2 separate regions of the Homo sapiens genome follow, and region 1 is linked to region 2. Evidence: fine-mapped expression QTL. A gene starts in region 2. The other region holds a variant in brackets. All regions are shown on one strand. Distances are between the middles of the regions. Region 1 overlaps SARAF (store-operated calcium entry associated regulatory factor). Region 2 holds the start of SARAF (store-operated calcium entry associated regulatory factor).

Region 1 (15,020 bases), 27 kb after region 2:
ATCACCTGAGGTCAGGAGTTCGAGACTAGCCTGCCCAACATGGTGAAACCCCATGTCTGCTAAAAATACAAAAATTAGCTGGGTGTAGTGGCACATGCCTGTAATCCCAGCTATTTGGGAGGGTGAGGCAGGAGAATCGCTTGAACGCGGGAGGCAGAAGTTGCAGTGAGCCGAGATTGCACCATTGCACTCCAGCCTGGGCAACAAGAGCAAAACTCTGTCTCAAAAAAAAAAAAAAAAAATATATATATATATATATATATATATATGGCTAGGTAAGACATCATGACAGAAAAATATTCATTCTCAGTGGAAAGAAGACTTGCATAAAATCATGACTATGAACTAGAAATGTATGGGAATTATATGAAAGAAAATCATAAAAACCAAATAATGTAAACCTGAAAATAATTGAGAGACTTTCTAGATAGGAAGATTTGTCATCCTGTAGCCTGTGTGTGTGCGCACAGTGTCTTAAGTAACGTTTAAGCATCTAAAGTCCGTAACCCTCCCCACATTACGTCTCTTACCACTGGAGTTGTGAGAGGTAGCAGGGCATGGCTTATGCGCCACTGGCCTCTGTCTTTTTGGCTTAGACTTTGAGTATTGCCTGTACCATGGTGGCCCCACTATAGAATGCATTCTCTTTTTTGGGGTCCTAACTGTCATTCCCAGCAACCATGTGTGAGTGTAGTAGGCTTGATGATTGGGAAGGTTGCTGTGGGAGGCGATGCACTGTCCTGCTTAGCCCAGTTCCACCTAGTGGCACACTCTTTCCTTTCCTCCTATCTCATTCATTTGCTGACAATAAACATGTATGACTTGTAATTTTATAAGCAATTCTAATGCATTTTTAAAAACTAATGTAAATTTTACCCCTCTCATTCTAGGATATGGTGGTACCAGGAGACGATAAAGTAGAAAGTTGGAGTCAAACACTGGATGCAGAAATTTTGGATTTTTCATCACTTTCTCTTTAGAAAAAAAGTACTACCTGTTAACAATTGGGAAAAGGGGATATTCAAAAGTTCTGTGGTGTTATGTCCAGTGTAGCTTTTTGTATTCTATTATTTGAGGCTAAAAGTTGATGTGTGACAAAATACTTATGTGTTGTATGTCAGTGTAACATGCAGATGTATATTGCAGTTTTTGAAAGTGATCATTACTGTGGAATGCTAAAAATACATTAATTTCTAAAACCTGTGATGCCCTAAGAAGCATTAAGAATGAAGGTGTTGTACTAATAGAAACTAAGTACAGAAAATTTCAGTTTTAGGTGGTTGTAGCTGATGAGTTATTACCTCATAGAGACTATAATATTCTATTTGGTATTATATTATTTGATGTTTGCTGTTCTTCAAACATTTAAATCAAGCTTTGGACTAATTATGCTAATTTGTGAGTTCTGATCACTTTTGAGCTCTGAAGCTTTGAATCATTCAGTGGTGGAGATGGCCTTCTGGTAACTGAATATTACCTTCTGTAGGAAAAGGTAGAAAATAAGCATCTAGAAGGTTGTTGTGAATGACTCTGTGCTGGCAAAAATGCTTGAAACCTCTATATTTCTTTCGTTCATAAGAGGTAAAGGTCAAATTTTTCAACAAAAGTCTTTTAATAACAAAAGCATGCAGTTCTCTGTGAAATCTCAAATATTGTTGTAATAGTCTGTTTCAATCTTAAAAAGAATCAATAAAAACAAACAAGGGGTTTAGTCTCATTCTTTCTATTAGCCTAGGCGCAAATAAATGTTACTTTTTGTTTTTTTAAACCCTTTTTCCCAAAGGGGAAAGTTCATGCAGAAGTTCTGTCTCCCTAAACAGTAATTTTATGTGGTAGTCGTACCTTAGTCTTTTGGTAAATGTTTTCAAAAAGTAATTTACAAATGGTGTGGAAGCCTCTGCCAAAAAATAGCGTTTGAAAAAAATAATTAAATCTCCAAGCCTCCCAACCCATCAGAGATTGCATGGTTACACTTAGTTAAGCTTCATAACCTCAAAGCCCCAGTTTTATATCTTATGTGTTTAATGATTTTTGCCATTTAAAACTGCAGTTACTTTTCACCAACCAATAAGAACCAATTTAAAACAAACCCTTATTAAGACTATTGCATAATAAAACTATCCTCTTTTCATCAGTAAAACAGTAGAAATTTTAACTGATAGAAGAAACACAGCTTTACTTTATGTATATCCCACTAAATCCTTACCCCATTTCTCCTTAGTAGAAGGATATGGAATAAAAGAGAATGTAGTTTGTTGCTTTTTTTTTTTTTTTGAGACAGAGTCTCTCGTTCTGTCACCAGGCTGGAGTGCAGTGGCATGATCTCGGCTCACTGCAACCTCCTCCTCCTGGGTTCAAGCAATTCTCCTGCCTCAGCCTCCTGAGTAGTTGGGATTACAGGCTCCTGTCACCAAGCCCAGCTAAGTTTTTGTATTTTTAGTAGAGATGGGGTTTCACTGTGTTGGCCAGGCTGGTCTCGAACTCCTGACCTCAGGTGTTCCACCTGCCTCAGCCTCCCAAAGTGCTGGGATTACACACGTGAGCCACCGCGCCCGGCTTACTCAGATTGTTTTTGAACATAGTACTGCAGATCATTGGGATTGTAAGAAAATAATGAGTTAATGTAAAGAGAGTTGACTGTTCTTCCTGTAGGCGATAGCTTTAAAAAAAAAGAGTTGACTTGGTGGCTTTTAGATTACTCTGGGGAGCCCTAGTGGTGTTCTTATGAGGTTCTTTAGAGGGTCCCTGGAGGGAAGGGAGGAAAAGAGGCAGAGTATAGGTTTCAAGCCCCACCTGAGTGTTCCTCTTTTATCTGTTGTGTATTTGTACTTCCTTGTCATTTAAGAACTTTTTTTTTTTTTTTTTTTTTTTGGTAGAGATGGTGTTTCACTATGTTGCTCAGGCTAGTTTCGAACTCCTGGCCTCAAACAGTCCTCCCACCATGGCCTCCCCAAGTGCTGGGATTACAGGCATGAACCACTACTCCCGGCCCTTTGTTGTCTATGGAAAAGGTTCACATGTATCACTTCCCCAAATGTAAAACTTAGAATAATAAGATAG[T/C]ACAGTCTAAGGCAGGAGGATTGCTTAAGTCCAGGAGTTCGAGACAAGCCTGGGCAACATAGCAAGATTTCATCTCTACAGATTATTATTTTAATTAGCTGGGCATGGTGGTATGCACCTGTAGTCCTGGCTACTCCAGAGGCTAAGGTGGGAGGATCACTTGAGCTCGGGAGATTAAGGCTGCAGTGAGCTGTGATTTTGCCATTGCATTCCAGCCTGGGCAACAGGGTGAGACCTTGTCTCTTAAAAAAATAAGGTGAGAGCATTGATTGAGAAGCAGTGGGATCCTGAAAAGTGGAATGGGGACATAAGAAAGGATCCTGATGAAGCCAGTGAAATGGAACCCCTAAATTCTGCGTAGTATTTCTTGCCGGTAGAAGCAGCCCTTCTACTTCTGTCTGAGAAGGTTAATCCTACTTTGCCTGAAGGATCTGTAATGGTCTCTTCAGAGGTGTTCGTTACCAGGCATCACTCATCTGCCTCAGGGTCTGCCCTTGCTACCTGCTTTGCTCCTAGATGTACAGCTAGACTCACGTTCCAGTAGGCACCAAAGAGTGAGGTACAAATTATGATCCATGAGGAGGTACCCTGCACACCAAAAGGACTCCATGATTTTCCCAGTCTATACAGATAGAAATCTGGGGAATATGTGTGGGAATGGATCTTAGAGTGTAGGATATGGTGGTAGGACTGTAAAGTTCAGTCAGGACAACTTTATTGATATTGGCCCACTCAGCAGAGATTCTGGATTCAATATTTGAGAGGTTAGAAAGGACTCTTAACAGTTTAGTTGGTTTGCTGAACATGGACTCGAAGATGGCCTACACTAAAGTCAAAATGCCAGAACTGCCTCAGTGTACTGTGGAGGAAGGGATTCAAAGGCTCAGGGAGATTGGAATGTTAGGGTGGATTTATCATATAAGCCCCACCCACCCACCCTGGAGGAGTCAAGAGAATACACTTTTCACCATGATGGTGAGAAATAGATTTTTGAGAAGGAGGCCCACAAATTTGGTTTCTCTTCTTTGTAGGTCAGAATGTACAGTGGGAACTGCTACCATCAAACTGGGACCCCTAGAGGCAGTGGGGTTAATTTGATCCCAGGGTAGCAGGGGCCAAATGGTGACAATCAGCAAAGATAGCGTGGCATGGTTATGCTGTAATGGGCAGCAGAGTCAAAGCAGCCATCAGAATTGTTGGACTCAGGCCAGGAACACTGGCACATGACTGTAATCCCAGAACTTTGGGAGGCAGAGGCAGGAGGATTGCTTGAGGCCAGGAGTTTGAGACCAGCCTGGGCAATATAGTGAGACTCTATCTCTACAAAAAATTTTATGAAACAAAAATTAACAAGAATTGTCTGACTCAGAGACCTATGGCATTGGCTGGTTGATCATTGTGTACCTATGGAAGAAATAGATGGCAGTCTACTAAATTCTTATTTGATTTATGTATGTGGAAGAGTTCTAGGCTGAGTAAACGGAAGTCTTTTTTTTTTTTTTTTTTTTTTTTTTGAGACCAAGTCTCACTCTGTCACCCAGGCTGGAGAGAGCAGGGGCATGATCTCGGCTCACTGCAACCTCTGCCTCCCAGGTTCAAGCAATTCTCCTGCCTCACCCTCCCGAGTAGCTGGGATTACAGGCGCCTGCCACCATGCCTGGCTAATTTTTGTATTTTTAGTAGAGACAGGGTTTCACCAAGTTGGCCAGGCTGGTCTCAAACTCCTGACCTCAGGTGATCCGCCCGCCTCGGCCTCCCAAAGTGCTGGGATTATAGGTGTGAGCCACTGTGCCCAGCCAACAGAAGTCTATCTTAAGTCACCACAAGTGAGTCATAGCCTCTGAATCATTTCCTAGACTTGAGCTGGTTTATAGCTCCAGAATCCCTTCAATGAAGGAGAGGCTGGGTTCCCCTTGAGGAAGAACCCTACCACATTGCCAGGTTTATATTGTTTATCTTTCCCCCAGTCTTCCCTCAATGGACCCGTGGCTATTTACTGGGGTAACTATGCCCTGGGGAAAGGGAAAATAATCAGATAGTTTAGGGATTACTGGACACTGAATTGATGCTAATTCCAGGAGGCTCAAAACATTACTGTGGTCCACCAGTCAGAGTAAGAGCTTATAGAGTTTTAGCTCAGATCAATTTCACAGTGAGTCCCATGGGTCCCTCGAATGATCCTGTGATTATTACACAGGAATGGAACCTGCGTTCTAGAATGCAGGATTAGAATAGACATACTCAGCAACTAGCAGAATCTCTACGTTGGGTCCCTGACCTGTGGAATGAAGGCTGTTATGGTGGCATAGGCCAAGTGAAAGTCACTAGAACTACCTCTATCTACAAAAATGATAAACCAATAGTGGCTGTGATATGGACACTTGATTAAAGGGGCTGAGAGGACTTGTGGGGAATCCCAATTGGAAGAACATCCAAGTTAGAGATGAAGGCGACTAGGGAGAGTTGGAGTGAGGAAATGGGGTGAAATGGAGGGACACAGAAAGTGCCTGAGCTCTGTGCCTCAGAATGTGATCTTATTTGGAAATAGAGTCTATGTTAGTCCATTTGTGTTGCTATAAAGGAATACCGGAGACCAAGTAATTTATAAAGAGGTTTAATTGGCTCACAGTTGTGCAGGCTGTACAGGAAGCATGGTGCCGGCATCTGCTCCTGGTGATGCCTTGGGAAGCTTCCCATCATGGTGGAAGGTGCAGGGAACAGGTGCGTCACATGGTGAGAGTGGGAGCAAGAGAGAGCGAGGGAGGGAGGTCCCAGATTGATTGACTGATTTTTTTTGAGACAGAGTCTTGCTCTGTCACCCAGGCTGGACTGCAGTGGTGTGATCTTGGCTCACTGCCTCACCTCACCTCTGCATCGTGGGTTCAAGTGATTCTCCTGCATCAGCCTCCTGAGTACCTGGGATTACAGGTGTGTGCCACCACACGTGGCTAATTTTTGTATTTTTTTTTAATAGAGGCAGGGTTTTACCATGTTGGCTGAACTCCTGGCCTCAAGTGACCCTCCTGCCTTGGCCTCCCAAAGTGCTGGGATTACAGGTGTGAGCTACCGCACCTGGCCAGGTCCCAGACTTTTAAACAACCAGATATTGTGTGAACTAACTGAGCAAGAACTCATTCATCACGAGGGGGATGGTGCTAAACCATTCATGAGGGAATCCTCCTGTATGCTCCCAACACCTCCCACCAGGCCCCACCTGCAACATTGGGAATCACATTCAATGTGGGATTTGGAGGGGACAAACATCCAAACCATAACAGGGTTACTGCAGATGAAATTACGATGAGGTTATACTGGAGTAGAGTGAACACCAATGATTCATGTCATTATAAAATGAGGAAATTTGGACACAGACACACAAACAGAAATAATCATGTAATGTCTGGAGTTCTGCCAAAAGCCAATATATGCCAAAGATTACCAGCAAACCACCAGAAGCTGAGAGTCAGGCCTGGAACAGATCCTTCCTCAGCACATACAGAGGGAGCATGGCCCTGCTACCACCTGGATATCAGACTCACAGCCTCTAGAACCGTGAGATAGTAAGTTCTGCCTTTCTGGAGGGATTACAGAGATTAATGCCACCATCAAGGACTTGAAGGATATAGGGCTGGTGCTTCCTACCACATCCCCATTCAACTCGCCTATTTGGCCTGTGCCGAAAACGGATAGAGAGTAATAATAGGTTGTCATAAACTTACCCAGATGGTGACTTCAATTGCAACTGCTGTTCCAGATGTAGTTTCATCACTTGGGTACATGAACATATCTGGTAGTTGAAACACAAGTGCTCTGGCAAATGCTTTTCCTCCATACCTGTTAGTACACACCATCAGAAGCAGCTTGCTTTCAGCTGGCAGGGCCAGCAATACACCTTCACTTTTCAGTCCTATGTCATAATTTAGTCTGCAAGGACCTTGGTTACCTTTCCCTTCCACAAGACTTCACACTGGTCCATGACATTTATTATATTAAGCTGATTGGATCTGATGAGCAAGAAGAGCAACTACCAAGAAGTAGCAACTACTGTAGATGTATTGGTAAGGCATTTGTATGTTAGAGGGTGGGAAACAAATCTGACAAAGATTCAGGGGCTTTCTACCTCAGGGAAATTTCTAGGAGTCCAGTAGTATGGGACATGTTGAAATATCTTTCTAAGGCCAAGGATAAATCGTTACATCTGGCTCCAGATGAAAAAAATGATGCAATACCTAGTGGATCTTGCGGGCAACATATTCCTTATGTGGTATGCAACTCTAGTCCATTTACTGACTGATCGCAAAGCTGCTAGTTTTAACAGGAGCCTAGAACAAAAGAAGGCTCTGTGATAGGTCCAGGTTATTGGGCAAGCTCAAGAGTCATTTTAATATTCATTTTTTTTTCTTTTTTCAGAATAGTCTTGCTCTGTTGCCCAGGCTTTAGTGCAGTGGTGTGATCTTGGCTCACTGCAAACTCTGCCTCCTGGGTTCAAGTGATTCACCTGCCTCAGTCTCCAGGGTAGCTAGGATTACAGGTGCCCATCACCATGCCTGGCTAATTTTTGTATTTTTAGTAGAGACGGGGTTTCACCATGTTGGCCAGGCTGGTCATGAACGCCTGAATTCAAGTGATCCGCCCGTCTTGGCCTCCCAAAGTGCTGGGATTACAGGCATGAGCCACCGCGCCTGGCCAGCAACCTAATTTTCCCTTGATAATTAGGATGAATTACCTGTTAGAGTGGCCCCTTACTTTGTCCATTTGTTCAGTAGCATGAGGAGCCCAAACTGTCCAAGGACAGTCTCAGGTTTCCAATTCATCGTGACAGTGTTTCCTGGTGGAAGCATTCCTTCCTTGTGCACTGGAACTTCCAAATCCACTATATCAGCACCACTTGTACACCTTCTCAGAGGCTCTTAACTGCCTTCTCCTTTCACGTGGTTGGTGTCACACCCACACCAGGTCACCCCTCCACTTTGAGATTTGAATAAGACGACACATTGCAAGGTGTGGAATATGGTTTCCTGTGTGGCTGCCGGGAGCCCAGATGGTGCAACTCAGTTGTTTAGGGAATTAGCTCAATGGAATGAGCAATGACCAATGGGAAATAAATTCCTATCTTTTCAGGGATTACTGCAAGATGTGTTTTCTTTTTGCAACTCTTCTGGAGAAGTCCTTTGTGCAGAGTGAACCTGCCTGCAAAGCGACCTACTGTGTGTCTGTAGCTCATTGTGAAGCAGTGCCGCAATCCATTGCATGCCATTGCATCACATCTTTATTTGTCTCACTTTTTTCCCTCACCCTGTGTCTTTGGACATGCTTCTGTCCAAGTGCCAGAAATGTTTTTCTTTTTTTTTGCTTGAGTTCTGCTTTCTAGAGGACTTGTGTTAAGACAATTGGTGTGAAAGTTGTACAGGATGGAATTTTGGAATTGGACTGTTCAAGGAATCAGAAGAACTTGAACATCGACATCTTCCTAAGTCTTTCTTTCTGGCATAGCAGCCCCTTCCTTCTTGCTGAAGGGGATTAGCCTTCCTTGTCTAGAGACCATGTAACGGCCTCACCTGAAGCAGATGCCTTGTAAGATAGCATTTTTTCTTAAAACTGAGTCCTGCCACATCTCTGCCTCCAGGCCAATAACTAGAGTCAGATCTCAACCTTAACAGGGAAAGACAGTCCCTGCTTTGGGAGGAAATAAGCCACACAGCAAAAGAATGATAACCTCTTGGAATTATAGCACTTGCCTTGGGAGGAAATAGGTCACATACTAAAAAAATCATGGTACCATACAGCTAATATGTACCAGCGAGAGTAGGGATAAACCATGTGGAAATTCATCTGGAAGTTGGGCTGTGGGAGGGGTGAAATATGGTGGAAAGAGAAGTCCTTTATGTTCACCTGTGAATTGGGATTCAATGTTCTGTCAAAGACATGAGCTACTGGTTCTAATAATTTTCTGGGATGGTTTCTTGATGGATGATGATGGTTTCCTGATTGGATGTGATGATGCCTACCGTAAGTGAGGTAGAGATGCCAGACTTTCTATGGTATAGTATTGAGCACAGTATCTGAAGACTCAAGGAAGTGGGATGTTAGAATTTACTTATGAGACTGAATAATCCAACATTTGACTCTACTCTGAGGGTTCAGAGCATCTCCCTTTACCAAGGTAGTAAGGAAGGTACTGGTGAGAGAGTTATTAGCATTTTTAAGGGCTCAATGATAGTTGTCCTCTGTAGGCAAAGGTTAATAGTGGGAAATGCTGTCATGAAAATGGACTTCCCAAGATTAACAGAGATAGTGGGTTTCCGAAGTGGCAAATTGCATCTCTTCATTGTCAGAGCCAACCAAGGTGGATGGAATTCCATACAGGACAGCAAGTCAAGAGTAGCCTGATTTACAAATGGATCTGCATGATATGCTGATACCACCTGGAAGGACAGTGAAGGGAAGTGCCCTGAGGGGGTGGAATTTTGAGCTATGCATCTGAAATAAGAGATGGCAAGACATATGTATCTACACTTTTCAAAATAGACAGTGGTTTCTGGTTTGAATGGGTGACCAGGGGCTTGGAAAAATGAGACTGAAAAATTGACGATAAAGCTGGGCAAGCTGGCTCATGCCTGTAATCCCAGCACTTTGGGAGGCCGAGGTGGGCGAATCATCTGAGGTCAGGCATTAGAGACTAGCCTGGCCAACATGGTAAAACCCCATCTCTACTAAAAATACAAAAATTAGGCTGGGCGCAGTGGCTCACGCCTGTAATCCCAGCACTTTGGGAGGCTGAGGCAGGCAAATCACAAAGTCAGGAGATCGAGACCGTCCTGGCTAACACAGTGAAACCCTGTCTCTATTAAAAATACAAAAAATTAGCCAGGCGTGGTGGCACACACCTGTAGTCCCAGCTACTCGAGAGGCTGAGGCAGAAGAATCACTTGAACCCAGGAGGCAGAGGTTGCAGTGAGATGAGATCGTGCCACTGCACTCCAGCCTGGGTGACAGAACGAGACTCTGTCTCCAAAAAAAAAAAAAAAAAGAAAGAAAAATTGATAAGGATATCTGGGGGAAATGTAGATGTATGGTCCTCTCTTAACAAAGATGAGATTTTTTTTTTTTGTCCAATATACATGCTTACAACTACCTGAGTAGTAGAATATCACAGAAATTCTGGCATCTCCACCTTGCTTACTATAGGCATCATCACATCCAAGCAGGAAGCCATCATCCCTCAGGAAACCATCCACTCAGAGTATTAGGATCAGTAAGTAGTTCATGTCCCCGACAGAACGTTGCATCTTAAGTCACTTCATAAGATGACATTTTCTGTGGCTATTATTCAGCCTCTTTTTTTCAGCAAGCCCTACTCCTGTTTCATTGGCTCATAAACAAAGTGGCTAAGGTGGTAGGGATGAAAGTTATCCATCGATTCAGCAAAAGGGTCTTCCATTCACCAAAACCGATCAGGTTACAACCGCTGCTGAGTGCCCTATCTCCCAACGGCAGAGGCCAACACTGAACCCTGAATACGGTTCAATTCCCTGGGGAAATCAGCCCACCATCTGGTGGCATGTTGATTACATGAGACCACTTCTATCATGAAAGGGGCAATGATTTGTTGTCACTGAAGTAGACATTTACTCTGGGTTTGGATTGGCCCTTCCCACTCGAAAGGCTGTTGTTGAAACCATGATATGTAGATTTACAGAATGCCTTATTGTGTATCACAATGTTTCACATTGTTTCTAAGTAAATCATTTTCTAGTGGATGAAGGGCAGGATGGGAATAATGCCCACATAATTTATAGGAGTTCCTGTCTTCCCTGGATCCAGAAATAGTAAATCTTCATGATTTTGCTAGCTCTGTGATGCCTTCGGGAAGATGTCTTTTCATATTTTGCTCAGTTTTGTTAGTTTCCGTGTGTGATAGGATTGGTTCAAATCATCTTGCCCTCACAAACATAAAAGTGGAATTCCCTTACTGTAGATATTTGAAGACAGCTCTATTTTTTATTCAAGTTAAAAATCCAAAACACTCTCAATCATTTCTTACTTTACCTAGCTTTTGGATCCTCCACCATCTGGTCATCTACCTAGGTTTGATCATGTTTTTTTTTGTTGTTGTTGTTTTTTGTTTTTTAAATCCCCAGCACAATCTTTCCTTATTAAAGGAGAAAAGACACATTTCTTCCTTACATTAAAATATTCAAAATTATGAGTATTTATCAAGTTAAATTATATTTAATTAAATTATATAGATAAATCATTCACAACTATATATAAGTTAAAATATGCATATTTCATAATTGAAAAAAGAAAAGCAATGCAAGTTCTTTGTAAAACATTCGAACAGTTTAGAAGGATATAAAGAGAAAAGAAAGAGTCTGTATCTGGCTAGGCATGGTGGCACATGCCTGTAATCTCAGCTACTCAGGGGGCTGAGGTAGGAGGATCACTTGAGCCCAGGAGTCTGAGGCTGCAATGAGCTATGACCGTGTCAGTCACGACAGAGCAAGACCCTGTCTCCAAAAAGAAAAAAGTCTATATCTGCCCAACTCCCCACGGCCCCCTTCGTTTCATCCTCTCAGTGTGGTCTCTCTACCTAGAAATAATTTCTGTTAACATTTTTTGGTTATTATTATAGAAATTATACACAATGTCCAGAATTTTTTCACAAAGAATAAATCTATTCTTTTCACAGCTGCATAGTATTCCATCATATGGATATATTATAATTTAATCTCACCATTCCTTTATCAATATCAATATACATTTACCACATTTTCAATTTTGTTCCCTATTTTCAACAATGCAATAATGAACATCCGAACATATCTTTTGTACATGAGTTTATGTTGTAGCTGCTCCAAACACTGGAGTCAGAGACTTTATTATAGTTTAGATCTTTAATGTACATGTGTTTAGATTTATAAGATATATTTCTAGAATAAGATTTATGCTTAAATGTGGCACCCAGACTGTAATTAAGATATGGATGTCAGAGAAGCTGCCATTTAAACTTGGCCTTTGATCTTCCTGCATGGGAGGATAAAGTGAGTCATTCCAAAGCGGATCTTCTTTGTTCTTTGTGGTTCATAAGTAAAGATAGGGTAAGCAGACATCTATTGCTCTTGGGGAAATGTACAACAAAGCCTTTTAAAAAGGGCTTGATGAAGGCTGCTTTTTAAAATATGCAGAGATGAAAGTTTGCTTAAGCAGAAGTACATTTTCATGGAAACCCAGGTGGCTACTGGAAGAGTATGCAGTATCTCTCACACATCTCTTTTGGACTTCCTCATAAATAGTACCTTTTGGATGGTTAGAGGCAGCTCTTAGGGGAGAGAAGGATGAGTGAAGACCGGGAATTCTGGGTTATTACCCGATTCTACATAGTCTTGGGAAAAAGTGGGTTCTGGGTTAGCTTGTGGCTATGTCTGGAACTGGAATTGTCCTGGATCCACAAGGGCACAATGAGTGTGTTGGGAAGAATGTCTGCATATGTGGTTTTAACCTGGAGAGCTATTACCTGGGAAGTGAGGGAGGAGGACACCACTGTGACCTGCATAGGAATATGGATGGAAAAGAACAGTGGAAAAGAATATACCAGACTGGGAAAGACCAGTATTCATAATGTGGCAACAACAATGGTAGCTGAAAGTTAGGTCTGCTGGTGATGGATTGGATCCTCTGGATTGCTCTCCAGAAGGCATTTCAGAAATATGTTCATCCATTCTGGACAACATCCTGGGATTCTTGAATAAGTGGGCAGAAGAAGAGAAGTCCCTTGAAAGAAATTATACCTCCAACTTATCCAAAGTATTGGGATTCTGCTTGGTTTAGTTAAGTAAAATAAGAGATGCAACAATATTTGTATCTTGATTAAATAAATTATACTGGTTGTTCCAGCATAATTATATGAAGTTCAATGGATATATTACTTTCTTTTGGATAAACATTTCATGATTGCAGCCTTTTGGGAAGCTACATCTCTCTACTACTTCATATTGAGCTTATGAAAGTGACAAAAAAAATGCCACTCTATTTCACTAACTACTATTTCACTGAATTACTAACAGGAAGTCTCTCACCGTTCCTCATTTGTGCAACTGGTTAAAAAAACAAAGCAAAACAAAGAACACCAAGTTCAGGAATTATCAGTTACACACATTAATCTTCATCCCCTTACTTGTCCCTATCTTTTATGGAAGACAATAAAATATTTGTGTAGTAGATATCACTACTAATTCTTATACTTACAATAATCCTGGCACCTTAACCAACACGGATTCAGGATTCTCACTTTTTTGAAAATTATGGATAACTTTGAAAAGCAATGCCAGATTTTATCTTCTCAGATATACAATTGCTCATGGTGTCTCCCAGTCAAAAGTTGTTAGAAAGCAACCAGTCATGGCCCAAAGAATACCCCAAATTTCGAATTGAGTGTTTCCCAGAATCATTGGTTGTCACTTTCCTTTTCTCTAAGTACATTTTCTCTTTTATCACTAGAGGGCAATAATGCTCCACTATACAAGTCAGAAATCTCATTGCGGACAGTAAAATCTCCTAATATTTAGTAGGTTGCTTATGCTGTTGTAAACCTGCTAGATAGATTATTTATTTCCTTCCAGATTGTCACCAGACCATAAAAGATTGCCCCTAGAACCCTTCCCCTTTTTACACAAGTATATTTCCCCTTTTTACACAAAATGTCTCTGACATACTATTAGAATCAATGTAGTCTGCTGTAACTGGTCTCACATTTTCAATCATATAGGACTTAACTCTTTTCCATACAGCAAAATATTTCCAGATTCTGATGACTTCTCATCTCTTCTGCTATTGTCACTCAGGTTCAAGCCACTATCATTTGCTGTCTTAGTGGGGTCTACCCTGACAACTTGCATCAGTTAGGATAGGTCGGGTTATGCTGCAGTAACAAACAAGACCAAAAATCTCATTAGCTTAATATGTAGCTCACACCAAGTGTCTAACACAGGTTGGCAGGGGCTTTGGCTCATGATGTTATTCAGGAATTCTGGCCAAGTGAAGCTTCCTATGGCATGCAGCAGTGGGAGAGGCATGTGGAGAATCACACACTATACTTAAAGCTTCTGTCCAGAAATCACACACATCATTTCTGCTCACATTCCATTGGCCAAAACAAGTCCTATGGCTGTACTTAACTTTAATATGATAGGGAAGTACAATCCTAGTATAAGCCTGGAGATCAAAAACCATATGTATTTGGTGAACAGCAGTAAGGAAACCAAACCACTCTAATGATAATTTCACTTCCCCATTTCTGCCCTAGGACTTTGGATTTCCCTTATTCTGTTCTATTTTCTCCTATAACCCTTATCTTCTGACTTACTATATAATTTACTTTATTATTACTTTTCCTACCCCCTCTTTCTAGAATATAAATTCCACAAGGACAGGGATTTTTGTCTATCTTGTTCTATACTATGTCCATATTGTTCGCAACAGTGCCTGTCTCATACTAGGTATTCAACACATATTGAATGAATGAGTAACCAATGGATCATACATCAATTTTCTTCACCTTATACAACAGCCCACCCTATATGTGGAATGATGACACAAATTAGAGAAATTGACACTGTGCTTATTCAAAACCATGATATTTAGGCTGGGCATGGTGGCTCACAACCGTAATCCCAGCACTTTGGGAGGTTGAGGTGGGCGGATCATTTAAGGTCAGGAGTTCGAGACCAGCCTGGCCAACATGGTGAAACCCTGTCTCTACTAAAAATACAAAAATTAGCCGGACGTGATGGTGGGCGCCTGTAATCCCAGCTACTCAGGAGGCTGAGGCAGGAGAATTGCTTGAACCTGGAAGGCAGATGTTGCAATGAGCCAAGATCACGCCACTGCACTCCAGCTTGGGCAACAGAGTGAGACTCTATTTCAATAAAAAAAACAAAAACAAAAACAAAAACAAAAAC
Region 2 (16,600 bases):
AGGAAAGATGGGTAAATAGTTCTCTGAAAACTTTTGATTGCGATCTGCCAAGGAAAATTTCCCCCAAGGAGAGACAACACAGTGATGAATAAATGTGTTAATAGAGAACGGAAAAGCCATCGCAGGTGGCGGGGTGTGTTGTTTGTGTGTGTGTGTTTGCGTGTGTTTGTGTGTGTGCGTGTTTGTGTTTGTGTGTGCCTGCATGTGTGTGTGCATGCATGTGTTTGTGCGTGTTTGTGTGTATGTGTTTGTGTACGTGTTTGCGTGTGCATGGGTATTTGTGTGTGCGTGTGTGTGCGTCCTTGTGCGTGTTTGGGTGTTGTGTGTGTGCGTTTGTCTGTGCGTGCGTTTGTGTGCGTGTCTGTGTATGCGTTTGTGCGTGCATGTGTGTTTGTGTGCGTGCGTGTCTGTGTTGTGGGCGTGTTTGTGTGTGCCTGCATGTGTTTGCGTGTTTGTGCACGTTTGCGTGTGTATGCATGTTTGTGTGTGTGCGTGTGTTTGTGCATGTGTGTTTGTGTGTGTTTTGTGTGTTGTGTTTTTGTGTGTTTGTGTGTTTGCGTGCGCGCATGTATGTATGTGTGGTGGGGAGTTAGGAGCTTTGGCAGCAAATGGAGCAAGGAACTTGCTTGGTCCCTTGGAGAAAAGAGAGGTGGCCAATGGGGTTGGTCAAGGTTGGGGTGGGGCAGCATGCTTATATAGTAGGGACGTACACAAGCAGTTTTGGGTTTTCTCTCTGAGCAATAAAAATCTTTTGAAGGTTTTAAAAGGAAGTAGGTGGGGGTGAGCTACGTACGATTTGAATTTTTAACTTTTTTTCAGTCATCAGACTAACATAAAGTGGCATGTAAGACTGTGGAGTGAATGTTTAGAAGAGATATTTCCAATATGCTTTAAAATGAGAGCAAATGGGAAGCTTGAGGCATTACCCACTTCGCTTCTCTCTACTATTTCTAGAGTTGAATTACAATTTAAACAACAACAACAACAACAACAAACAGGTCACTTCTTGAGTCTTAATGCACCAAATGAGTCTATGGGTGTTTTGTAGGAGAGTAGAATTTTTTTCTGTTCAAGTTAGTGCAGAAAGATCTACCATCTCTTTCCTGTATCATGAAAAAAGTTTCCATTTAAGGATGTGGTAACAAAACCACAAGGCACACTTGAACATATGCCATGGAAATACACGCTGTTTACACGGAATCTGTGAGCCACCAGCTCCTTTCTCTAAACTACTGAAGCAGGCATATACGTCCTTCTCCCCAGCCATCTTGAATGGATAGGTGGAATTCCTGGAGAAGTGAATAATTCCATCCCACATGTCACCTACCACAACACCTTTTCTTGTTTTGTTCTGTGAACCCACAATATGTGAGACAGGTCTCAGTCAATTTAGAAAGTTTATTTTGCCAGGGTTGAAGACGCACCCTTGACACGCCTCAGCAGGTCTTGATGACCTGTGTCCAAAGTGGTTGGGGCACAGCTTGGTGTTATACATTTTAGGGAGACATGAGACATCAATAACTGTATATAAGGTGTACATTGGTTCGGTCTGCAAAGGCGGGACAACTCAAAGTGGGGAGGGGGTGTCCAGGTCATAGGTAGATAAGAGACAAATGGTTGCCTTATTTTGAGTTTCTTTTTCTTCCTTTCTTTTTTTTGAGACCAAGTCTCACTCTGTCACCCAAGCTGCAGGCTGGAGTACAGTGGTGCGATCTCGGCTCACTGCAACCTTCAACTTCTGGGCTCGAGCAATTCTCCTGCCTCAGCCTCCCGAATAGCTGAGATTACAGGTGCCCACCACCACACGTGGCTAATTTTTTTGTTCTTTTTTTTGAGGCTGGAGTGCTGTGGCACCATCTGTCTTCTGGATTCAAGTGATTCTCCTGCTTCAGCTTCCCAAGTAGCTGGGATTACAGGCATGTGCCACCACACCTGGCTAATTTTCGTATTTTTAGTTAGAGACGGGTTTAACCATGTTGGCCAAGCTGGTCTTGAACTCCTAAGCTCAAGTGATCCACTTGCCTCGGCCTCCCAAAGTGCTAGGATTATAGGCATGAGCCACCATGTCTGGCCTCTTCTGAGTTTCTGATTAGCCTTTCACTGAATACACAATTTACAGGTATAGTCACTTATGCTTTAGTCTGGGTTAGTGAAAAAACAGGGCAAAGGAAGCAATCAGATAAGCATTTGTCTCACAGTGAGCAAAGGATGACTTTGAGTTCTCTCTGTCCTTTGTCCACAAGGAATATCCTTGTGGGCAAATTGTGAGGTAGGTATGTAGCTTTATTTTTTTCATTTATTTTTATTATTATTTTTATCTTTGTAGCTATCTTATGTAGGATAAGATAGCTACAAAGATAAATTTCCCTTTTTTTTTTTTTTTGAGGCAGGGTTTTATCCTGTTGCCCAGGCTGCAGTGCAGTGGAGCAATCACAGTCATGGTAGCTTCCTGTCATGGCAGCCTCCACCTCCAGGGCTCAAGCTATCCTCCTGCCTCAGCCTCCCGAGTAGCTGGGACCACAGATATGCACCACCATGGCCCGCTAATTTTTTACTTTTTGTAGAGGCGGGGTTTTGCCATGTTGTCCAGGCTAGTTTTGAACTCTGGGACTCAAGAGATCCTCCCACTTTGGCCTCCCAAAGGGCTGGGATCACAGGTGTAAGCCACTACCCCCAGCCTGATTTGCTCTTTTCAGTACAAATGTGTTGGCATTACAGATGTCCTTGACAACATTCATGGGCAACTGGGATTACTCATCAGGTTACAGGAATCTACATTCTTTTCTTCCATGGTCACAGAATCCTGAGAGATTGTGCTCCTTATCTTTCCCATGAGATTCAGTGTTTCCAGCACAAAAACACTCATCACTCTAAGGACCATTTTTGGTTTACTGGTCTAGGGACCAGTTGTGTCCGGAATTGGTGGGTTCTTGGTTTCACTGACTTCAAGAATGAAGCTGTGGACCCTCACGGTGAGTGTTACAGTTCTTAAAGACGGTGGGTCCGGAATTTGTTCCTTCTGATGTTCGGACATGTCCGGAGTTTCTTCCTTCTGGTGGGTTCGTGGTCTCGCTGACTTCAGGAGTGAAGCCACAGACCTTCGCAGTGAGTGTTACAGCTCTTAAAGGTGGCGCGTCCAAAGCTATTCGTTCCTCCCGTCTGGAATTGTTTGTTCTTCCCAGTGGGTTCGTGGTCTCGCTGGCTTCAGGAATGAAGCCGCAGACCTTCGCTATGAGTGTTACAGCTCATAAAGGCAGCACAAATCCAAACAGTGAGCAGCAGCAGCATTTATTGCAAAAAGCAAAATAAGAAAGCTTCCACACCCAGGAAGGGGACCCCAGCGGATTGCCGCTGCTGCTCTGGTGGCCTTTCTTTATTCCCTTATCTGGCCCCACCCACATCCTGCTGATTGGTCCATTTTACAGAGAGCTGATTGGTCCGTTTTGACAGAGTGCTGATTGGTGCATTTACAAACCTTTAGCTACACAGAGTGCTGATTGGTGCGTTTACAATCCTTTAGCTAGACACAAAAGTTCTCCAAGTCCCCACCCGATTAGCTAGACACAGAGGCTGATTGTTGTGTTTACAAACCTTTAGCTAGACACAGAGTGCTGATTGGTGCATTTACAGCCCTTTAACTAGACAGAAAGCTCTCCAAGTCCCCACCGGTCCCAGAAGCCTAGCCGGCTTCACCTCTCACTGGCGCTCTTCGCGGGATTTTGCGGCACTTACCCCGGGTGCTCCAGTAGCCCAGAAGGAGCTTGTCCCAGACAACCAAGAGGAAAAGAGGGGAAGCGAGAAAGAGAGGGAGACCCGCCATTCTGGCCAACGACCCTGCGAAGAGGGAATGGCGGTGCACGCACGGGACCCAGCCTCTGATCAAGCCCAGCAGGCGCCGGCCAGCTGCGCTGAGTGCTGGGCCCGTGGAGCCCGCGCCCACCCGGAACCTGCGCCGGCCCGCGAGCGGTGAGCGCCGGGCGCAGCCCCGGGTTCCGCCCGCGCCTCTCCCTCCACACTTCTCCGGGAGAGGAGGGAGCCGGCTCCGGCCTCGGCCAGCCCCAGAGAGGGACCCCCACAGCGCAGCGGCAGGCTGAAGGGCTCCTCCAGCGCGGCCAGAGCGGACGTCCTGGCTGAGGAGGCGCCGAGAGTGAGCGAGGGCTGCTAGCACGTTGTCACCTCTCACAGTCACTTGAGACCTTAAAAACAGTGTGTCTAAATGTTGTATTTCAAGGACCACCTAAAGCAGAATACTTTGGGATGCCTTCCAAATTCTTGACTGCTACTCCCGACCTTCTGAATTTAGAACTCTTGTGGGTAAAGCCCGGAATCTGAAAAGTTAACAAGAATCTCAAACAATTCCTGTGCAAACTAAAGCAAAGCTTGAAAGTCATTGTCGGAAAAAAGGTAGAATGTCAGTTTTCTCCACCAGTTTTCCAAGGGAACCCTAAATGCTAGTTAATGTCATATCCTTTAAATGTTCTCTATTGTTATGTAATAGCTAATTAGTGTTACCTTTCAGTTTCAATACTTCTTATATGGATGGTTTTCCATTCTCCAAAGTTAAATGGTGGAGATGAGAATGTGGATGAGAGGAAGGGAATTCTTACTTTTTCAGCAGGTGCTATTTGCCTGGTGCTTTAGCATTCATCTCATTTAATCCTCTTCACAATTTTGTAAACTGAGAATTACTAACTCTTACAGGTTGATTCAGAGAAAGCTCAGAGGAAAAAAAATCTTTTTTTGGGTCAGGGTCTCACTCTTGTCACCCAGGCTGGAGTGCAGTGGTGTGATTTCGGCTCATTGTAACCTCTGCCTCCCAGGCTCAAGCTATCCTCCTGCCTCAGCCTCCCGAGTAGCTGGGACCACGGGCATGCACCACTATGCCTGGCTAATTTTTTTTTTTTTTTTTTTTTGTAGAGACAAGGTCTTCTTACGTTGCCCAGGCTGGTCTCGAACTCCTGGGCTCAAGTGATACACCCACCTCGGGCCTCCAAAAGTGCTGGGATTACAGGTGTTAGCCACCGCACCCAGCCCCTCCTGTATACTTTAAATAATCTCTAAATTATTTATAATACCTAATAACAATGTAAATACTATGTAAATAGTTGTTATACTGTATTGTTTACAGACACCAAAAAGTCAGTCACCAGAAAGACCATGTGATTAGAGTGTTAGAGGGTTGGAAATTTCAGCCCACCCACCAACCAACAGGAGAGATCGGGGGCGGGTGGCTGGAGATTAAGCTCTATACAAACTCTTAGACAACAAGATTTCATGAGCTTCTAGGTTGCTGAATACAGGGAGGTGCTGGGAGGGTGGAGTGCCCAGCGAGGGCATGGAAGCCCCATGGCCTTCTTATCTTTGCCCTATCCATCTCTTCATCTGGCTGTTCATCTGTATCCTTTATAAATCCTTTACAATAAACTGGTAAACATAAAATATTTTCCTGGACTGACGTCTGAATTGGGGCAGTCTTGTGGGAGACTGGGCCCTTAACTTGAATTGAGTTATAGGACATCGTGTTGATGTCCTTTAGAGTTGGTTGGTGTGTAGGGAAATACTCCCCCAGCCCCTCTTCTGGTCACAGAACTGCTCTGTGTTTTGTGCCAGTAGAAAGGAGAAAACAGTTTGTTTTTTCCTTTTACAGCCTCATCATTTAGCTCTCAGCTCAAATGGTAATTTCTCAGAGAATCTTTTCTGGGCCATCCTACTTGTTATGGCACTACCTGTCATATTGCTCTGTTTTCTTCTTCAAGGTACTTATTATTATTTGAGATAGAGTCTTGCTCTGTTGCCCAGGCTGGAGTGCAGTGATGCAGTCATGGCTTGCTGCAGCCTCAACCTCCAGGGCTCAAGTGATCCTCCCACCTCAGCCTCTTGAGTGGCTGGGACTACAGGCACATGCCACCACATCTGGCTATTTTTTTTTTTTTTTTGAGACGGAGTCTCACTCTTTCGCCCAGGCTGGAGTGCAGTGGTGCGATCTTGGCTCACTGCAAGCTCCGCCTCTCGGGTTCACACCATTCTCCTGCCTCAGCCTCCTGAGTAGCTGGGACTTAGGCACCCGCCACCATGCCCAGCTAATTTTTTGTATTTTTAGTAGAGACGGGGTTTCACTGTGTTAGCCAAGATGGTCTCGATCTCCTGACTTCATGATCTGCCTACCTCGGCCTCCCAAAGTGCTGGGATTACAGGCGTGAGCCACTGTGCCTGGCCACATCTGGCTAATTTTTTAAAAACAATTTTTTGTGGAGATGGGGTCTTACTATGTTGCCCAGATTGGCCTCAAACTCCTGGTCTCAAGTGATCCTGAGCCTCGGCTTCCCAGAGTGCTGAGATTACAGGTGTGAGCCACCGTGCCTGGCCCAAAGCACTTATTTATTTGAAATGACATGATTTGTTGGCTACCTCTCCCACTAGAATGTTTATTATAACAACCTTTCATCTTTTGTTCATGACTGTCCAGAACTGTACATGGTACATGGTGGGAATCTAAAATAACAAACATTCTCTTGTTAAGGTAATTAGTGATTTCTACATTGCAAAATTCAGAGACCAAATTTTGCTTCAAGCTTTCAGCAACAGTGGACACTGTTGACCATTCTTTCTTTCTCTCAATTACCATATCCTATTGTCCTAGTTCTTCCTCCTTCTTCACCAGAGGTTACTTCTCAGATTCTTTCTAGAATCTTCTGCTTGAGGTTCAAATGTTAGTGTTTCCATAGCCTGGGCCTCCTTTTTTGTGGTATCTCAATTCTCTCATGTTACTGTGTCTCTTCCCACATGTCTTAGTTCATTTTGTGTTGCTATAACAGAATACCTGAGACTGGGAAATTTATAAAGTATAGAGATTTATTTCTTATGGTTCTGGAGGCTGGGAAATCCTAGGTCCAGGGGCCTGCATCTGGTGGGGAGCTTCCTGCTGTGTCATTTCACGGTGGTAGGCAAAAGAGAAAGGGAGCTGAACTCATCCCTTTTATCGGGAACCCACTCCCCAATAACTAACCCACTCCTGTGATAATAGCATTAAGAGCTCTGCCCTCATAACCTAATCACCCCTTAAGAGTCCCCCCTCTCAACACTATTGCTTTGGGGAATAAGTTTCCAACACATGAGCTTTGGGGGACACATTCAAACAATAGCATCATGACATTAAATGCTATCTTTATATTTACAACATAACTACCAAATTTACCTTAGTTTTGAACTTCAGACTTTTACAGTTTATCTATTTATTTGACACGTCTACCTGGATGCCTAATAGTCACCTCAAACTTAACATGTTGAGCATAGATTCTCTATTATCTCTTATTTCAGTCCTTGGTCCCAGCATTGGTTGGTTCCATGCCGAGGCCCCACTGCTCTGCCATCTCTTATTCCACTCTTCCCCTAACTTACTTTGCTTCAGTTATGGCCTTGTTTGCCTCTTGTCCCCCAAATTTTGTTTTATTCACTGCTGTATCCCCAATACTGATAACAGTGCCTGGCAGGTACTGTTAGGTACTAATAGGTGCTCAATATAATAATCTGGTAAACATAAAGTGTTTTTTTGAGTTCTGTGAGCCATTCTAGCAAATTATGGAACTCAAGATGGGGGGTTATGAAAACCCCAATTTATTTGTTGAGAGGGAGTCTCTCTCCATGGTCCAGGTGCAGTGGGGCAGTCTTGACTCACTGCAACTTTCGCCTCCCAGGTTCAAGCGATTCTCTTGCCTCAGCCTCCCAAATAGCTGGGATTACAGGTGTGCACCACCACGCCCAGCTATTTTTCCTATTTTTAGTAGAGGTGGGGTTTTGCCATGCTGGCCAGGCTGGTCTTAAAGTCCTGACCTCAGGCGATTCACCTGCCTTGGCCTTCCAAAATGCTGGGATTACAGGCATGAGCCACCACGCCCGGCCTGGAAACCCTAATTTATAGCTGGTTGGTCAGAAGCATAGGTCACAACCTGAGACTTGTGATTGATGTCTGAAGTTGGGGCCATCTTGTGGGACTGAACTCTTTATAGGATCTGACCAAATAACTCTTCCTCGAAACACAAAGTTAGGGCTTTTGCATCCACTGTTCCCCAGATGGGAAGATGAGTCCCCTGATCTTTGTACGGCTAGTTCTTTCTCATCATTCAGGTCCCAAGCTTCAAAAACCACTTCCTCAGCAAGGCCCTCCCTGAAGTTGTGTCCCCAGGCTCCATTATATCACCCTGTTTTTCATCAATGTTATTACCTATCATTACCTATTATTTTTGTTGTTTAATTGGTATGTCGTTTGTCCTATTCTATTTCAATGAGTACAGGGATCTTGTCTGTACCATCCATGCCTAAAACAGTGCCTGGTGCGTATTAGGTATTCAACATATATTCATTGAATGAATGAATGAATGAATGAATGAATGAATGAATGAAAGAAACCCAAGCCTGCTAGACCTCAAAAGCCCAGAGAACTGTTTTCTCTGGCTGGTTCTTCATTCAGACGATATTTTCTCCTCTTGACATTTTATAGTCTTCCGGCCTCCATGCGCAAGGAACCATGTAAAGGTTCTGAGCCTTGAAACCAGACAATGTATTTCCCTGTTACTTTTCGCTTGAATCTTCTCTGTATTTAGCAACCAGTCATAGAACACTAACCATGTACCAAGCGCTATGCTAAGTGCTGAACACATAGAGCTGAATAAAGCACAGAACTACCCTTGGTACAATTATTGAGGTTTTAATAATACATAATTTGACTACATTTCTTAGATTTCGCGTCGTGACGTTTTCAGCCTCTCAAACTGCATCGCCTACGCACAGAAGCTTCCCGAATCTCAGACGAGACACAACAAAGCTGCGCGCTGCCCTCGCCCCGCCCGCGGGCGCGGCGGCGACAGGCCCTCGGCCCCGCCCACACCGCGGCGCCACGCCTCCAACCCGCCTCCAGCCGTGCCTCCCCAGGCCCTTGGCCCCGCCCACACCGCCTCGCCCCGCCCCAAGCCGCGCTGTGCTCCAGGGGCGGGGGCCCACGGCGGCCACTCACTGAGCCCCACGGGCCGCAGCGGCAGTGACGTAGGGTTGGCGCACGGATCCGTTGCGGCTGCAGCTCTGCAGTCGGGCCGTTCCTTCGCCGCCGCCAGGGGTAGCGGTGTAGCTGCGCAGCGTCGCGCGCGCTACCGCACCCAGGTTCGGCCCGTAGGCGTCTGGCAGCCCGGCGCCATCTTCATCGAGCGCCATGGCCGCAGCCTGCGGGCCGGGAGCGGCCGGGTACTGCTTGCTCCTCGGCTTGCATTTGTTTCTGCTGACCGCGGGCCCTGCCCTGGGCTGGAACGACCCTGGTGAGTGCTGCCAGGGCCCTCAGGCGCTTCGTTCGCCCTTTTCCGCCGCCGTCAGCCGGTGCAGGCTCCCCTGCGTTTCCGTGCGCCGTCTTCCCGGAGCCTGGGTGCCCGGATTCCCCATGTCTGACCTCTTTGCTGTTCGTGCTCTCCCTGGTTCCACTGCTCTTCCCAGGCGTCTTGGGAGGCGGGTAGGGACTGCTCGAGTGGGCGGGGCGGGACGGCTGGAGATCCTTAAGGTCCCCTTTCTCCCTGCCCCGGACTCCCGGAATTTGCCCATTGTCGTCTTTCTCATCTCTGAGTATAACTGGAGAGCTGGACACTCACCTGCGCATCTGCTTTGTTGTTATGGCTGTGTGATGTCATCGTGGCCTGCTGTTGTCATGGCTGCCTGTTGCTATCGCCGGCCGTTGCCTGCCACTGGCAGTCTCTGAGTCACCCTTAGCGGACAGGGCTGCAGACCTCGCAGGTCTGTTAGCAGAATCGCAGATTGCACTCTTTTTTTTTTTTTTGAGTCGGAGTCTCACATTGTCGCCCCGGCCGCACTGCAATGACGTGATCTCGGCTCACTGCAACCTCCGCCTCCTGGGTTCAAGAGATTCTCCTGCCTCGGCCTCACCGGTAGCTGAGATTACGGGTGCCCACCACCATGCCTGGCTATTTTTTTGTATTTTTAGTAGAGACGGGGTTTTACTATGTTGGCCAGGCTGGTCTCGACCTCCTGACCTCGTGATCCACCCGCCTTCATCCTCCCAAAGTGCTGGGATTACAGGCGTGAGCCACCGCGTCTTTATGAGAACCGCTGCCTCTTATCTGACGATTGCAGTGATGTACATCGCGCGGCACCAGCTCTTCCCATTGGCTTTCACCGTAGAGAAGAATTTAAAAAATAATTTTCTCGGTTTTTTTTAGTGATGGTACATGATAAGTGGGTTTTAGGAAAGAGGTTCTTTTATGTCAGTACAGTATTAAAATTGTCTAAAGAATTTTCATGGGATCAGTAATATTCCGTGCAATTAATACGTATATGTCTATATACTTAGATACAGATTTTGACTTTTTCCATGTAATAAATGACGCATGCTGTTACTTTGGAATTCTGTAAAAAAAAAAAAAAATGAAAACAACATCATTTTTGCTTTGCGAAGTAAAGATGGCATGGAAAGCATATTGCCTTTGTGATTTGGTGATTGGAAATGCCTGCATTGTCGAATTTAAGCAACAGGTTTATTTCTATAATAGCCTATTCTTACATGCTGAAATGAGAGAGAAGGTGCTATTTGCAAGCACATCACGTTGAGTAGTCATTTGATGTGGACATTTTATTACCAAAAATAAAAAGCCAAGTTGTATTTAAATGTCTGTACGTTTTTCTTTTGTATTTCTAGAAAGCTGTGTATGAGTGGGAGACTTGATCAGAATTACAAGTGAAAACCTAGAATGAAACTTTAATTTGTTGAACTTTGAATCAGTTCGTAAATAAATTTAATAAAGGAAGTTTACAGTTGAAGAGCCAGAAGAACTATAAAAACTATGAAAGAAGAACCAAATTTAAATTAAAGATGAACCACTTCCTGGTTTATCTACGCTGTAAAACTATTGTTCTGGAACACAAAGCACCACAATATTTTGCAGAGTAAACTCAATTGTTTTATGTAAATTCTACTTCAAAGTTTACTTTGAGGAACTTTTTTGTTTTGTTTTGTTTTTTTGAGACAGTTTCACTCTTGTCGCCCAGGCTAGAGTGCAATGGCGCGATCTTGGCTCACCGCAACCTCTGCCTCCTGGGTTCAAGCGATTTTCCTGCCTCAGCCTCCCGAGTAGCTGGGATTACAGGCATGTGCCACCATGCCCGGCAAATTTTGTATTTTTAGTAGAGACAGGGTTTCTCCATGTTGGTCAGGCTGGTCTTGAACTCCCAACCTCAGGTGATCCGCCCGCCTTGGCCTCCCAAAGTGCTGGGATTACAGGCGTGAGCCACCGCACCCGGCACTTTGAGGAACTTTTTAAATGAAGATACTTTATTGACATACTATTTATTAAGTCCTTTACTAAAGCATTAATCGGCTCCCTAATTTATCTTTTGTTTGACTTGGATGCCATTACTTTAGCTCACATTGAGCAGTAATTTGTCTGGAAAAAAAAATTAGCACCATTCTAAAGAGATTACCAATGAATTTTCAAAATTCCTTATTGAATGTAATCTTATATTAAGTTACTCTTCCGGGTGTTGGGAATATAGCAGTGAACAAAACAGTGTCTTGCCTCCAAGGACTTTACCTCTATTGGGGAGAAATAGACAATAAACAGATAAACATGTAAATAACATGCTATATTGTGAAAATTGGTATGCACCGTGTATGATAAACAGCGTAAGGAGGACATGGTGTGCGGGCAGAAGTGGAGACTTAAAAAACGTACATTGGTCAGGGAAGTCACTGTTAGGGTGACATTTGACTGGAAACCTGAAGTGGGGAGGAGGAGTAAATGACCTGAAATTACTTATATCTTTAAAGGCTCATTTGGGCTGCTCTGTGGAAAACAGACCGAAGAGGGTAGGAGGGAAGCAGGGAAACCAGTGAATTAATATATATTGCTATCTATTTTAATATTGTACAGTAAGTTCTTAGAGTGGTGACCGCTTGGCCCAGGGCAGGAGCAGTAGAGAGCTGGTTAGAGTAGCTGGATTCTCTTGTCACCTGTTTGGAAGGTGGAGCTAACATGATCTTCTGAAGGATCAGATGTAGGAGTGAGAGGAGAGAAGATGAGAAGTCCAAGGTTTTTGGCTTGAGCAACTAGAAGCATGGAGTTAACCATTTCCTGAGATGTGGAAGAATGTGGGATGATCAGGTTTAGGGGAGTTTGGTTTTGTTTATCTTGTTTGAGACCTGCCGTGATTTTGATTTATGAGTCTGGAGTTCAGGGAGCTCCTGTGTCCCTTGACTGATCTAACTAGTGGGGCGTGGGTATTAGAATTTTGTTCTTGGACCTTAAGAATCTCTAGGGAAGAAAGATGCTATAGGATTATGGTAATGCTATTCCATCTTAAAACTTTCAGTAATATTTATCATACCTGATCACCTGTTATGCTTCAAGTACTCAGCCAGATAATAAATTATATCTAAGCTTCACAACAAATTTCAAGGTTGATAATATTTTAATTTTGTAGGTGAGGAAACTTCTACACAGGTAAATTAAATGCCTTGGCCAAAGTCACAGCCAGTTAGTGACACCAACTTAGTTCAGTGTTCTTTGCATTATTGCAACTCTGTTACAATAAATTCAATTTATTATTTCTGTTATTTAGTTGATTAATACAGTCTGATTTTTCTAAACCATTGAACATTTTCATTGTCTTATTTTTTATGTATGAGGAGGTAGTAGTTTGTGTTTAATGTAGCATGGTTTATTTGAATATAGTTCTTGGAAATTTTAGATCTGTAGCCCATGTGGAATTAAATTTTTATATAGCTTTAGGTGGATTTTCTTGTGGCTGCATAGTCAATTATGCCAGTGCTATTTATTAAAGAAGACATCTTTTATCCACTAAATTAAAAAGACCACTTCATCTTACTGAATTCCCAAATGTATCTTGATTTATTTCTGATCTTTCTTTTGTTTCACAATTTCCTTGTCTCTGTTCCAATTCCCTACTATTTTGATTATAATCTTTTTTTTTTTTTTTTTTTTTGAGATGGAGTTTCACTCTTGTCGCCCAGGCTGGAGTGCAGTGGTAGCAATATCAGCTCACTGCAACCTCCACCTCCTGGATTCAAGTGATTCTCCTGCCTCAGCCTCCCAAGTAGCTGGGACTACGGGCGTATGCCACCACGTCCAGCTAATTTTTGTATTATTAGTAGAGATGGGGTTTCACCATGTTGTCCAGGCTGATCTCGAACTCCTGACCTTAGGTGATCTGCCCTCCTTGGCCTCCCAAAGTGCTGGGGTTACAGACGTGAGCCACCGTGCCTGGCTGATGATAATAATTTTATAGTAACCTTTACTATCTGGTAACCTATGTGTTCTTTTTCAAAAAAAAATTGTCCACAGGACCTTTAACATAATTTCTTTCCCCAAAAAACCCTATTGGGTTCCTGGTTGGAAGTATATTTAGGTCTCTCTCTCTATATATATTTTTTATATAGATAGGGTATTGACCTTAAGTTTATTAGATTGATTAGATTCATATTAAATACTTGTGGGAAATACATCATAGGAGATGTTGTAACATCAGTTTGTTCCACCATTAGCAAAGCGATGGTTGGCAAACCCAGCCAGACTTTTTCCTTTAGAGTTTTTGAATATATTTCTCCATTTTCTTTTTCTATCCTGTTGAGATACCTGAAGCTTTTCTAAGTCTTATCTTTTCTATATGGCTTGTTTTCTCCCTATTCTTCTGGCAATTTGTAGAATCTTTTTTTGTCTTCAGTGTTCTAAAATTTACTTTTCGTGTGCCTTTGTGTGGTCTGTTTCTCAGGCCTGGGTATTTGTTGGGCCCTTTCAGTATGACAACTCAAGTCCTTCAGTGTGGGAACTTTTCTTGAATTACAGCCTGGAGTTTGTCTAATCAGATTCCCTTGTTCATTCTTTCAGAAGCCCTTGTTGGATTTTTGGACTTTCTGAACTGGTCCTGAACTGGTAATTTTCTTTCTTTCTTTTTTTTTTTTTTCCTCCTACTGTCTTTTTTCTTTCTTTCTTTTTTTTTTTTTTGAGACGGAGTCTAGCTCTGTCCCCCAGGCTGGAGTGCAGTGGCACCATCTCGGCTCGCTGCAACCTCTGCTTCCCGGGTTCAAGCGATTCTCCTGTCTCATCTTCCTGAGTAGCTGGGATTACAGGTGCCCGCCACCATGCCTGGCTAATTTTTGTATTTTTAGTAGAGACGGGGTTTCACCATATTTGCCAGACTGGTCTCGAACTCCTGACCTTGTGATCTGCCTGCCTCGGCCACCCAAAGTGCTGGGATTACACACGTGAGCCACTGTGCCCAGCCTTTCTCTCCTACTTTCTATCTTTTTGCTCTACTTTCTTTTTTCTTTTTCCTTTTTTTTTCAGATGGAGCCTTGCTCTATCGCCAGGCTGGAGTGCAGTGGCACAATCTTGGCTCACTGCAACCTCTGCTTCCTGGGTTTAAGCAATTCTCCTGCCTCAGCCCCCCGAGTAGCTGGGACTACAGGCACGCGCCACCATCCCCAGCTAATTTTTGTATTTTTAGTAGAGCCGGGGTTTCACCGTGTTCGCCAGGATGGTCTTGATCTCTTGACCTCGTGATCCACCTGCCTCGGCCTCCCAAAGTGCTAGGATTACAGGCATGAGCCACCACGCCCGGCCTCTTTTTGCTCTACTTTCTAGAAGATTTTCTTTTAACAGTTCTGTCGTATGTATGTATTTATTTATTTATGTTTTGTGACAGGGTCTCACTCTATCACCCAGGCTGGAGTGCATGGCTCACTGCAGCCTCGACCTCCCCAGGCTCAGGTGATTCTCCCACCTCAGCCTTCTAAGTAGCTGGGACTGCAGGTGTGTGCCACCATACCTGGCTAATGTTATAATTTTTTTTGTAGAGACAGGGTTTTGCCATGTTGCTTAGGCTGGTCTTAAACTCTTGGGCTCAAGTGATCTGCTTGCCTTGGCCTCCCAAAGTGCTGGGATTACAGGCATGAGCCACTGCACCTGGCAGTTCTGTTGTTTTTAATCTTGGCTGTCCTGTTTTTAATTTCCAAAAGCTCTTGTTTTTTCTCTGAGTATCCCTTTTAAAAATGATTGTTTTATTAACGCAGTCTTTTTCTCTTATCTCTCTGAGGATATTACAGTGTTTTTAAAAAAGTTTTCTTCTTGTGCGTCATCTCTTTTTTCCTCCTGCTTCCTTTTGTTGTTGTTTTGTCCTGGTTGCTGTATTTCATGTTAGGGGCTGTTTTGTCTGTTTAATGTTACTGTAACACAATACCACAGACTGGGAAATTTATTAAAAAACTGAATTCATTTCTCACAGTTCTGGAGGCTGAGAAGTTCAATATTAAGGTGCTAGCATCTGGTGAGGGCCTTCTTGCTGTGTCATCCCATGGTGGAAGGCAGAAGGGAGAGAGTGAGAGAGGGGAAAGGGGCCTAACTCATCCTTTTATCAGGAGTCCACTCCTGCGATAACTAACCCAGTCCTGCAAGAACAGCATTAATCTATTCATGAGGGCAGAGCCCTCTTAAAGATTCCATCTTTCAACACTGTTGCATTGGGGATTAAGTTTCCAACATGTGAACTTTGGGGGACACATTCAAACCATAGCAGGGACTTTCCTCATATTTTTAGTAATCCTTGGCTCCCTGCTCATGGTTAATTCTGGGGAACCAAAAAGCTCATTGGAAGCTATCAGTGTGCAGTTGCACTTTTGATTTTGAACTTCACAACAGGGTGACCTAGGTTGCTCTTTTTTGGAGGAAGTTCCTGATGTCAGTGTATTTAGGTACTTCTTCTTGGTTAGATTACCAAGGGAATAGTCATCCAGTCTCCCACAGAGGACAAGGGGATGGCTGTTAGCATTTTGTGCACCATGTGGGGAAGGAGAACTGTGCTTTCAGCAGTCAGAGTGCACACAGTCACTTGGGTTCCCTGTTTGGTTGTTTTTGTCCCCATGCCCTTTACTATGCCAGATGGTCCCCAATGCAAATCCCTTCAGTTTTATCCTCTCCAGAGAATACATCTCCAGACAGTTTCCTTAGTGGGGAAGAGGGAGTTAGAACAGTGTGGAGTTGGGGAGAGGATCTGGGAATATGGCTTCCTCTCAAGTAGCTTTCACCCTGTAGTGTGTATTCCAGGCATCTCCCATTCCAGAGCTGCCATTTCCCGTTTTTTGTTTTTTTTTTTTTGTTTTTTTTTAGGGATTCTGTTATGTACATCAGGTTGATTCTCAGTTTCCCCCTTTGCTGTTCTGGCATTTGTCTTTCACTTAGGTCTAGTCATCTACCACTAGTCCATTTACTTTCTCCTTCCAAAATTCTGCTGTCATCTCCTCTTTCGTTTTACCTGACCACAGTCATTCACATCATCAAAACAATGTATTTATTATAGTTTTAGTAGAATTTTGGGAGGCTGCAAATTCTGCTAATCTGACAGGTTGAATATAGGGAATTGGGTACTCACAAAATGGTAGAAAGCGATGCCTATTACATCTGCCACATTGAAAAATAGATTGTTCATGTCAAGCTTCATGACAGCCAGGAAGCTGATTAGAGGATACTATCAGTTTGAAAACTCATGGTCTCCATGCCTGTGTTTACTAGCTGAAGGACAGAGCACTGTATAAGTC

What was found.
Region 1: its variant is fine-mapped to the expression of SARAF in whole blood (TOPMed, PIP above 0.99).

What each region holds. Positions count from the first base shown.
Region 1 is chr8:30,049,784-30,064,803 of GRCh38, reverse strand. SARAF (store-operated calcium entry associated regulatory factor) reads left to right here. Exons shown (of 6, transcript NM_016127.6): 6 at 891-1,801. The coding sequence ends at 916. Among named protein-coding and RNA genes, the nearest start is that of SARAF, 26 kb to the left of the region's middle. RefSeq lists an enhancer at 6,665-7,864. The variant T/C (reference allele first, on the strand shown) is at 3,061.
Region 2 is chr8:30,075,552-30,092,151 of GRCh38, reverse strand. SARAF (store-operated calcium entry associated regulatory factor) reads left to right here and starts at 9,088. Exons shown (of 6, transcript NM_016127.6): 1 at 9,088-9,305. The coding sequence starts at 9,203. RefSeq lists a silencer at 8,765-9,134 and enhancers at 9,175-9,524, 15,647-15,696.